Homo sapiens: one gene and its partners. The protein of the gene in region 3 purifies or fractionates together with the protein of the main gene of each other region. This does not show direct contact. Each region holds a gene or a part of one and is shown on either strand. Other genes may lie near its edges. The genes, in order: ODR4, DPY19L1 and BTN3A3.

What was found.
Region 1: the proteins of BTN3A3 (region 3) and ODR4 purify together in Homo sapiens (affinity purification with mass spectrometry; one large-scale study listed by BioGRID and IntAct). This does not show direct contact.
Region 2: the proteins of BTN3A3 (region 3) and DPY19L1 purify together in Homo sapiens (affinity purification with mass spectrometry; one large-scale study listed by BioGRID and IntAct). This does not show direct contact.

The regions. Positions count from the first base shown.
Region 1 is NC_000001.11:186,385,789-186,389,443, reverse strand, and holds part of ODR4 (protein odr-4 homolog), read right to left. Parts: intron 3,457-3,655; coding exon 3,361-3,456; intron 1,003-3,360; coding exon 896-1,002; intron 1-895. UniProt on the Homo sapiens protein: May play a role in the trafficking of a subset of G-protein coupled receptors.
Region 2 is NC_000007.14:35,016,981-35,020,635, forward strand, and holds part of DPY19L1 (protein C-mannosyl-transferase DPY19L1), read right to left. Parts: intron 1,617-3,655; coding exon 1,592-1,616; intron 990-1,591; coding exon 902-989; intron 1-901. UniProt on the Homo sapiens protein: C-mannosyltransferase that mediates the C-mannosylation tryptophan residues on target proteins.
Region 3 is NC_000006.12:26,439,074-26,443,357, forward strand, and holds the start of BTN3A3 (butyrophilin subfamily 3 member A3 isoform a precursor), read left to right. Parts: upstream 1-1,430; 5' UTR 1,431-1,575; intron 1,576-4,284. UniProt on the Homo sapiens protein: Plays a role in T-cell responses in the adaptive immune response.

The DNA of each region.
Region 1 (3,655 bases), on a different chromosome or scaffold from region 3:
GTACATGTGTGCATATATATACATATGTGTATATATAATCATACATACAAACTGCTATCACTATAGTACTTGCGGTGCTTGAAAATCATTTCCTACCTTTTATGAATCCCGCTAATTGCAATAAATAGAATCAAAGCACTCGTGAGATTCTTCTCAAATATACACTCTCCATAAGAAAAAGTACCACTGTTTTATATGAGGTCAAACCTGAGACTATTTATTGGATTAAAGGGCTTGTATATGAAACTTTGCAGTTAAATACTAAAGATTTTTTTTGTTGTTGTTAAAAAAAAAAAAAGCCCTGCTTCTGCAGGAATGGTCACTTTTAAAATTCTGTCTTTGGAAGTCCATGGATCGTGTCACTCCTTTGGTGAGGATGACCCTTGCTTGGGAGGTACTCTTGCCCTGGTAAGAGGCCGTGTAACTGGCTTTTAGTGTCATTTCATCTTAGCCAAAGACATAAGAATTTCTCCGATGTCCTATACCATCCAGCTCTGTGCACCTGTGCTTTGAATTGTACATCCTTATCTATAGAAACTGGAGGTGAAAACTTTAACATAATAAAAACATTACTTTGCCTAAGCCATCAGTTAGGCATTTATCTCTGTAGGGAATCTGCTGTGCTTGGATGTACAGGGCAGATAGCTGGTAAAAAATTCAGAATCCTGAGTCTTTCATATTACAGATCTCAAGCTTTTTATCACCTTGGGACATGATTAACAACCATTATTGCTATTATTATTATTGGTGGCTCTAATTCCATGTTATTTACAGAAAAATCTTACAAAACTATGCCTATTTTTTAAATGATGATTTAAATAAATAGCAAAAAAACCTTGCAAGAATATTATTTTGGTACTTTGTACTTTTAAACCATAAACTGAACAAAAGATACTTTTTTGTAGAAGCACAAATGTGAAGTGTCACTCGTTCTGAGACTTCCTCCTCTGTGAAATTCCACAATCTCTTTCTATTTATAGACTTTTCCACAGCAAACATTAGCTGAAAGAGAGAAAAATACACACTAATTGAATGTAAAATGAAAAAAAAAGATGAGTGTTGAAATAGGCAATTATAATGTCCCCAACTCTCATTTAGCTTTAAAATTCCATGATTCTTTATTTATTGGAGAAGGGGTCTCACTATGTTGCTCAAGCTGGCCTTGAACACCTGGGCTCAAGTGATTCTCTCACCTCAGCTTCCCAAGTAACTGGGACTACAGGTGTGTGCCACCATTAATTTTTCTTTTCTTCAAATTAAAGACTGGAGCTAATTACTAACATTTTTGAATTCCTTTTAGGAAATTACAGAAAAATTGGGTTTAAATAAAAAAATTTAATTCACTATCATTAGAGATTAACTGGACACAAAAAATTAATTTGGGGCAACTAGAATTTATATAAACTATAGAACAGAGACTTTAATTAGAATGAGAAATGATAAGTGATTTTAACTAAAGAAATCAAGCATGTCACCCATTTAGCATTTCTTATTTAAACGTCACACAAGACTTAAGGCAATATATAACAACATATAAAATATAGTAATAACAAATTGAAAGTTAAAGTAGAATAGTGAGATAAATTTGTGTCAGAAATAAGAATTATAAAAATGCATACTTGATGTAAGGGGTGGTAATACATTTCGGTCTAAGCTTTCTAACAATAATGTGCAGAGAGAAATCTAATCTGTAACCTAATTCACATGGTCTGTAAGCTAAAAACAATCATCAGAGGAGGCACAACCTTCTTCATAATATAAAAAGAAATTCTTCCGGAAACACAATATTAATGTAATATGATGAATAAAGTCCTTAACAATAATGGGTGACACTGACAAGTTTTATAAGGCTGTTTCTTGTAGTGTTTGTCAGTGTAGCCAGTGGAAACAATTAGATAATTGAAACTCAGTAATGTCAGAGATAAAGCATTTCTAAAGTTTTATATACTTTTTAGGAACAAAAGATACAAAAGCAAGGAAAGTGGGCCTGGCTGTATCTCTCTAGCACTGGGCCCACATTCAACCCCCTCAATTCAGCACCAGCCAAAAAAGGTTGCACAATGAATGCTATTAATATTAAATACGCATAGATTTCGGTTAAATTTCAAAATGCCAAAGAGAATGAACAATTGTAAACAAGGTAAATTTATTTAAGATGGAAAAGTTGGCAGAGGGTTAAACAATTTAGCAGGGAGGAGAATATCTCCATTTTCTTCCCTTACTCCCTTAGGTGCAAATATCAAAGGCTTGAGGCTGGGACATCTGACAGGACAGGTTACAAGACTGAAAAAATCTGTAACATCTGAAGTTCTCAGCTGTATATTTTTTACCTAAAAAATGTTTTTCTGGGATACTGTTGGGGTTGGGTTTTATATGTCTCAAGATTTTAAGGTTCCCCCTCTTTTGGGGTATGAAATACCCTTCAAAAAGTTCATGTGGATCCTGAATGCTAAAAGAGCTGGCTACACAGAATCTACCTTAGGTTTGGGTTTAAGGGAAAACAGCATGTGGACCTTCATATTTACTTTTACACTATGTTACCCAATTCTCTGGTGCAGCAATTAAGCAAAAAACACAGGAGATTTCTGATAGATACTGTGTCCAGGAATAATCTGATTGTTTATGTTTTACTCTCAGGATCTCCGGAGAATTGAGAAGAAGGTAAAGAATTTCAGCACCTATTAATTTCATGTTACAGTAATCACTAGGTACTAAATGGAAGGTGTGACAGAATACTGCTATTGCATAAGAAAAACTGTTTAAAGCATTATAATTTGTTTCCTAATAGTCAGAAATTACCTCTAAAATAAAGATTATTTTAAAATATGTAGTTTTTCTGTCAAAAAGAATTACTTCCACAAAGATGCCTTTTTTACAACAAATTATTAGATCCAAGTGACTTTGAGTTCTTAATATTATAATTAATCATTTGAATTTTTCAATATTTTACAATGAATTATTTGTTTGCATAATTTACATGGAATTACTGTCATTAGTCATGGTTATTATTGAGAAGTAAATAATTTAACTTTTTAACTTGAGGAAAGAATAGCTTTTTCAAATTTGTATGAAATGCCATATGGGCTGATGATAGCCCTGTTTTGGGTAGTGTACTAAATAAAGAATAAAATTACCCATGGAAAAAATAATAAATAAAATGTGTAGTTTTTAAAAATATAAACATTTTTTACACTCAAGATATCCAAGCAATTGAGTGACAAAAGCTTTTTCAATGTAACCCCAACAAAAAGAATTATGGAAAACAAATGTAAATATGCCTAGAATCATTACACATACTCATAATCAGTAAAAATAACATATAACTGATTTCATTAAGAATTTTCGATATATCAAACTTACTCTACGCAGGGCATTTTGAAAATCATTTGCCAGTTCTAAAGTAGTAATAATAAATACTCCAAGAACTAAAAGTCCCCCTGGTAGCATTCTGGATACCTAAAAATAGAAATATATTATTAGCTAACAAATTGGCATTATATGCAATCCTTTCTGTTTGAGAAACTGTCTGCTTAGCATGTCCTTAGCTTTTCACCTTAAAACTACTTTATAAATAAAACTATCTGATAACAACATCCTTTAGCTACATCAATAAATAAATCCTTTTCTCAGGAGATCAAAGACTGAAATATTTTTT
Region 2 (3,655 bases), on a different chromosome or scaffold from region 3:
CAAACACATCAACTGTTTTTTTGTTTTTTTTTTTTTAAAGTGCCAAACAGGGCATTTAAATACTGATTTCTATTTGATTATATTAAGGATATTGTTAAATGTTTTCCAGTATGTCTTGTGCCATGGTTTTGTGCCATAGTTAAAACAAAGTCTTATCTTTAGAGACACTTATGAAAGTATGAAAGCATGAAATGATATAATGTCTGGGATTCCCTTTAAAAAGAGATAGTTGGCCGGGCACGGTGGCTCACGCCTGTAATCCCAGCACTTTGGGAGGCCGAGGCGGGTGGATCATGAGGTCAGGAGATCGAGACCATCCTGGCTAACAAGGTGAAACCCCGTCTCTACTAAAAAAATACAAAAAATTAGCCGGGCGCGGTGGCGGGCGCCTGTAGTCCCAGCTACTGGGGAGGCTGAGGCAGGAGAATGGCGTGAACCCGGGAAGCGGAGCTTGCAGTGAGCCGAGATTGTGCCACTGCAGTCCGCAGTCCGGCCTGGGCGACAGAGCGAGACTCCGTCTCAAAAAAAAAAAAAAAAAAAAATTAGCCGGGCATGGTGGCAGGCACCTGTAGTCCCAGCTACTCAGGAGGCTGAGGCAGGAGAATGGCGTGAACCTGGGAGGTGCAGCTTGCAGTGAGCCGAGATGGAGCCACTGCACTCCAGCCTGGGCGACAGAGCGAGACTCCGTCTCGAAAAAAAAATTAATAAATAAAAATAAAAAATAAAAAAGACATAGTGAGTGGGGGTGTAGATGAAGGAAAACTGGCTGTGGCTGTCAGCTGTAGAAGGTGGAGCATCTACTCTTTCTACTTTGGAACATCTTGAAATTTTCCATAATAAAAAATATTAAATGTTTTTAAATTCCTAAAGTACTATGATGAAATCCCAAATAAAAACTAACCATTTCAGTGCGAAAAGCCATCTCCCTTTCCAATGTTGAGAGGTGAGAAAAATGACGGTCATTTTCAAAGAGGTGTGTTATATGGCTCCTGGAAAAACAAAACAAAGCAATAGTGTTAAAACTTACACTCTAAGTATTATTTTTTAAAGTAAGCTAAAAGCAAAAATAAAAGTATCAGTTAACTTGCAGATAATTTTGTAATAACACTCAAATACAATAGTATCTATATTTTTTTCACTCAGTATGTATTGCATTTATACTAAAATTTCCCTCTCTAAAAAATCAAATTAGATTTTAAAATTAAAATGAACCAGAATATTTTAAGTGAAGTACAATAAAAGTATAGATTAAACTGTAAATGTCATTGGGTTACCATTTTAGAAACATCTAATGAAATTCATATTTCTATCTAGAAGATTAAATAAATTAATCTCTCTCTCACCATGAACATATTAATGTTGAGTGGAGTCTCAAATATAGCCTCTTTAATAATGAATCTCTTTTTTATTAAACAATTATATTATTCTGACCCTGATTTATCAATTAAACTAGTTTTTCAGACTATTGTGTTACATGTAATATATATTCATACTGATCATGCTGAAATTATTCCTTTAAATGTATGGGAAATAGCTTTAGCAAGTTATAAACGTCTGCATAAAATACCATAGGAGAAAAAAACAATCTTACCAGTGCAACACTGCTGCAAAAACAGCTGTAAGAAAAAAGAAATTTAAATTAGAATTTTAGCATAAACATGTTCATCTTACAGAAAAGCCATTTCAAAGATAAAGCATGTCAAATATTGAAATGTGTAAAAAAGAATACTGGGTCTTCAAAAAAGTCCCAGGGCTACGTTTAAAATTGTGATTGACTAGCTCATAAGGGAATTAAGCATACAGCCACCATTTTCACTCACTCACTCATTCAACAAAATATATGAAGGCCTAATATCCGCTAATAGACAGAAACCATTAGATGGAAACTATTGCTAATAGAACTGAGAGAGGAATGGAATCAACAGGTAAGGATAACTTAGAATAAAGAAATATGGTGGCTGAGGGGTACAGGATTGGGGGTGGAAGAAAAAAGGGAACTACCACTTCTGATATACTGCTGCAATGCCTGAAATTTTATGACAAATATTAACCCGTGTCTTTAAACAAATTTAAAATGAAATGAGTAAAGGAGAAGAAAAGGTAAGAGAGAGAAAACAAGCTAGTAATAAAATCAGTCTCATATGAAAATCAATACCTTGCTATCTGTCCAAGCAGAAAGAACATACTAAGATGAACCTGGAAGACACCATTCAATTTTCTTATCTCACAAGATACAGCTGATGGCAGGCTTCTGATTAAATAACTCTTAACTAAGGAATCAACCTATGAAAATACTCCTAGAAAGGAAACCCAGGCCAGATACAGTGGCACATGCCTGTAGTATCCATTACTGGGGAAGCAGAGGCAGCATCATCTCGAGCCCAGGAATTCAAGGCTGCAGCAGTGTGCTATGACTATGACTGTTAACAGCCACTGCTCTCTAGCCTGGGCAACATACTGAGACTCTGTTTCTCAAAAAAACAAAAGAAAGAGAAAAAGAAGAAGTAGGAGGAAGAAGAAGGAAAAAGAAAGAAGAAGAAGGAAGAAGAGAAGGAGAAGGAAGAAGAAAGAAGGAAGAAGAGGAGGAGAAGGAAGAGGAAAGAAGGAAGAAGAGAGGAGGAAGGAAGAATAAGGAGGAAGAGAAGGAAAGAAAAATGAAAACCAAATAGATCAGATCTTATTGTTTTATTCTTAAAGTCAGTTATATTTTTTCATTTAAAAATCCATTTTGCCTTGGAAATACGAATGGTTACTTCTAGATAATTGAAGTTACAAATATCTAACTTAGTTTGTCATTTGACTTTTTTTAATAAGATATATTGATCTTTTGAAATTTTAAATTTTTTTCTTATTAACAAATCTACCATTTGCTTCCTTTTAGTTTCTGTCTTTAAAAACTTTATCTGCCAGGCTCATGACTATAATCCCAGCTACTCGGCTGGAGGAAGTAGGGGGATCAGCTGAGGACAGGAGTTTAAATCTAGGCTGGGTAACACAGCAAGATCAGGTCTTTACAAAGCACGAGCCTATTGTCCCAGCTACTCAGGAAGGCTGAGCTGGGAGGATCGCTTGAGTCCAAGAGGTTGAGGTTGTAGTCAGCTATGATCACACCACTGTACTCTAGCCTGGATGACACAACAAGACCCTGTCTCTAAAGAAAAAAAATAATAATAATCCTAACATAATAAAATTTGGTCTTTATTTTCACAATGATTCAACTATCATTTTCTGAATAAATTATTTTTCTCCCATTGAATGTAAATGCAACTTTTATCATACTGAAGACTTGCCATGCTTCTACTTTGGTAATCACTCTGAGGTTATAATTGGATTTTCACTTATAAAATTAATTTGGGAAGAATTTACACGTTTACAATATAGAGCCTTCATATCCATAAATGTGGTGTGGGTATATACATATGTTGTATATATAGGTATGTGTATATATACATAACATATATCTTCAATTGTTCAAACTGTTTTTCGATAGTCCTTGAGAAAAATTCTACAGGTATTGTTAACATATGCATTTCTTATGAAGTTTCTCCTGGGAGTTAAACATTTTTTTCCTGCTAATATTCATAAAATGTTTTTTATTATACATTATTGGATATTGTTAAGGCATTTATTTTTGAAGAGTATTTATTTTGCAATG
Region 3 (4,284 bases):
GAAGTGTTATGGTAAACTGTTGGGAAGGAAAAGGGGGAGGGAAGAATTGTGGGATTCTGTTGGTAACAGAGACCAGAAATACCATTGGCTTAAACAAAACAAGGGTTTTCTTGTTTTTTCTTGATGTTGTTGTTTGTTTTCATGTAAAATGAATTTAGATGGCGGTAGTCCAGGGCTGACCTGGCAGCTCAGAGATGTCATTCATGCCCCAGCCTGCTTCTGACTTCATTCTCTGCTGTCTCTGCATGTGGCTTTCAACCTCAAGGTTGCCTCATGGTTCTAAGAGGGCTGCCGCACCTCTAGTTCAAAAGTCTACATCCAAGACAAGAGGAAGAAGGAAGTACGGAGAGTGTACACTCACACTCCCAGCTATCTTGGCCTCCATTCTGAAGGATCTCTGGGAGAAACACAAGCCCACAACTTTACCTACAAACTATTGATTCCAACTTAGTCCCTTGTTCTCTGGTATCTATGAGATAGCAGAGCCTATTGAAGTACCCAAGAAAATTAGGCTTTATCACCAAGAAGAAAGGGGGACTGCATGATGCAGAAGGGACCAGCCATCTCAACCAGATACTGCACAGCCTAAATTCAAACTGTTACAATATAATCAAATTTCATCAACCCCAGTCACATCTTAATCTTAGGAGTTTTGATCACTGACTTGCAAATCCAAAAAGTGTGTTTTGAGGTCCTAGGCCACAGGAAGAACCAGTTTGTCTCACAGACCTCTTACAGAGATGGCATTTGTAGTCTATCTAGATTCCAGCTTCAGATAATATGTACTCCACTGGCAGCACGAGAAATAAATACACAGGAAAATACAATATAGCACAAACCAGGAGCTGAGGGCGAATGAAGATGCTCAGAAACACCTGCACTAAAAGTTTCCTGAAAAAGGTAAAAAATGTCAATCAGCACTGCCTCTGGAAACCAGAAACATTATATTATTTGATAACAGATCCTAAGTCTGGATGCTGGAGGTGCTTAAAAATGTGCATTGCGTCTGGCTTTCTTTCCATGTATACATTTATTTGACGCTGTAGTAAAATCTCCTCCTTCAGGTACCCATATTCATGCAAGCAAATGTTAGCAAACTGCCACAGTAGCATTTTAATTAGTGCACAACTTTCTCTCTTCACCACATTATAATCTTTTCTCATTTTGTTCTGCTGCTATTTCTATTATGATAAAAGACTTAAGTAAATATGTAGAAATACTTATATACATGGACACGCAATAATGATTCAAATAGATAAACACAGAAACACAAACACTAAGGGAGGTACGGCTGGAATTTTTCTGCAACGTGTACAATTCAATGTACTTTCACTTTTCATTTCAACCCTCCTCAGTGGTTTCCTCCCAGCAACTGATGAGAAACATCACCTCTGAGCCAATCAAAAAACTAATTCTTCCAAAAAGAGATTGTTATTATTCCTCACAATAACCAGATAGCCTCTGCTTTCTTTTTCCTTTCTTCGGAATGAGAGACTCAACCATAATAGAAAGAATGGAGAACTATTAACCACCATTCTTCAGTGGGCTGTGATTTTCAGAGGGGAATACTAAGAAGTAAGTGGGGAATGTTGATTAGAGCCTGGGCTACAATGCCTGGGAGGACAAGAGCTGAATCGCTGAGAGTGGTGAGTGGGCATGCAGGGAGAGTACTTGCCCAGGGAAAGGGGTGCAGTGCCTCTGTGTGTGTGTGTGTGTGTGTGTGTGTGTGTGTGTGTGTGTGTGCGTGTGTGCGCATGGGCACCCATGCACACATGTGGGCACATGGAGAAGAGGCAAGTAGTGCAAAGAATAAAGACCTGCAGATATTGGGATTTGGTGGAAGGAGAGGGAGACAACATAAATGAAGAAATATTCCAACTGCATGTTCTTAAGAACTTATTGTGGTCAGAAAAGGGCAAAAAAGTCGCTAAAATCTGTTTTGGCCAACACAAGCCATCTATTCTAAGAGATTCTAGAAAGAGATGTGCCTTATAGATTCATATGTAAATTTGTTCATTACAGAAATACTTATAATATAGAAAAATCTGAACCAGCATACACATACAACAGGCAGGGGGTAGACAAACAGTGCGTGGCTCTATCATAAAAGAGATTTCTATGCAGCTTTTAGGCATCATGTTTTTAATGAAGGGCAATTATTTCTCATTTTAACAGCATTAGATCCATACATTAAACCTTGTTTTGTATGTTTTAGGTACAGTATCTGTTTTTCCTTCCATTAATCATTTCCTCATAACCCAATATATGTGTTTCAATGGACACAATCTATTTCATTGTGTGAATATATAATTATTTTGTAATACTTTACTAATTTTGGCTATTTCAATTATCTACATTTGGCTACTGTATAGATTTTATTATATTTAACAACCTCAGACATAAATTTTTGTCTTAATTTCTGTCTTTTTTTTTTGCCTCAACAATAATTCCTATAAGTGGAACTTTTGGGTAAAGCATACAACTTTTTTTTTTAATAGCATTTCCTTGGTAGAGCATGTAACTTTTTAAAGATGCTTGCTGTATATATGACCAAAATGCTTTGAGAAATATTTATATTTCTACTACCAAAGTATATGATTACTACTACAGAGTTTTAATTTTATTGATTGACTAATTTGTAGAAATGGGGGTCTCATTATGTTACCCAGGCTGTTTTAAACCCCTGGGCTCAAGGAATCCTCCCACCTTGACCATCCAAATTGCTAAGATTGCAGGCATGAGCCACTGAACTTTTATTCCTTTATGCTTTTCTTCATTTGCAATATTGACTATAATCAGGAAGAAAATATAAACATCCTTTAAAAAGAATGAAAACATATGTCTCACTCTAAGCAGAGCAGAGAAATTGTTAACTTTGAAACCAGTGATAATAAAAATGATACCCCTTCTATAGCAACATAAAGAGAAGTTTTGAGGAACAGAAGATGTGAAATGCAATATTTAGTCTGGGTCAGTGCAAGATCCAGGCGAGGGTGGAGGATGGCCGGCTGCACAGACCTCTGTTCCGGTGCTTTCTCTTCATCCCTCCCCACCTCCCTCTGCAGACCTTGTTCTCAGAGGCCATTCCCAGACTCAGGTAGCTACAGCAGCGGGTGTTGTGGCTGCAGGCCTCATGCTCCTTTGCTTTGGAAGAAACTGTTGAGGAGTTAGTATTTACTGAGCAGCTTATATGTTCCAGTCAGTATTATCACTCATAATAATTACTGTTAAGTAATACATGAAAAATCTTAAATTTAAAGCATTTCAATATTTTAAAAGTAAAGGGAGCAAAAGGCCAACGTGTTCTTTTGCTCACTTAACTTCCGATCTTCAGTTTAGCATGCATCTTTTTAGACTTTTTCAGGCGTTTACATCTATAAATATGCAGAAATGTATAGCTTTGTTTTTGTTTTTCAGTTGAATCATTAGTGTAGTTCTGCAACATGCTTTTTGACCGCTTAGTGTATCACCATTATCTAGGTTCATGACAATAAATCAACTCTTTTTACCTGCTGCATTGAATTCCCTCTGAGGGATGAGCCGTAGTTCCTCTAAACAGTCTCCTGTTGGGTGGCTGGTTCAGTCGGTTACCACTTTTATACTTTAAAAACAGTGCTGCAGTGTCATTCTCACAGAGGCTTCTCTCTGCACTCATGCAAGTACTTTGCTAGACTAGACATCAGAAAGTGGAATTGCTGGACCCAATTGTGCACATTCGAAATTTCACACTTCATGATATTGTATGAATCAATAAAGTTCCAATGGTTTTGTCCCATGAACAAGATCACACAGCTTGTGAATCTTAGAGCCTTTACCTATTGCTTACCTTCTTTATGTCCTTAACACTAATATAGTAGGCCTCACCCATTGTGGGTGCTCAGTAAATACTTGTTGAATGACTTTATGAAGGGAAGAAAGAAAAGATGAGTAAGGCCTGGTCTTATTCAAAGCTCTCCTAATCAATATCTTTGTGATTAAACGTGGTGGGTTCAGCCCCTGACTGACTTCAGAGCCTCTGCCAGGCAGTCTGCCTGGATCCCACCAGGAGCCACCAGGCCATAAGTTGACTGTAGTAATGGCCAAGAGTTTGATGCTTGAGGAGTCCACAGTGTTGGACACCCACAGAGCTGAACAAGGGTGGGACCAGGGAATCCAGTGAAGAGGGTCCTTCATGAATCAGAGGGGGATGATGGAAGCTTGGACCTGGCAAGGGAAGTGTGGGGAAGTGATAGGATTATGAATATTTTAATATTTTAATGCAGTAGAGTCAGAGATGTCCTGATC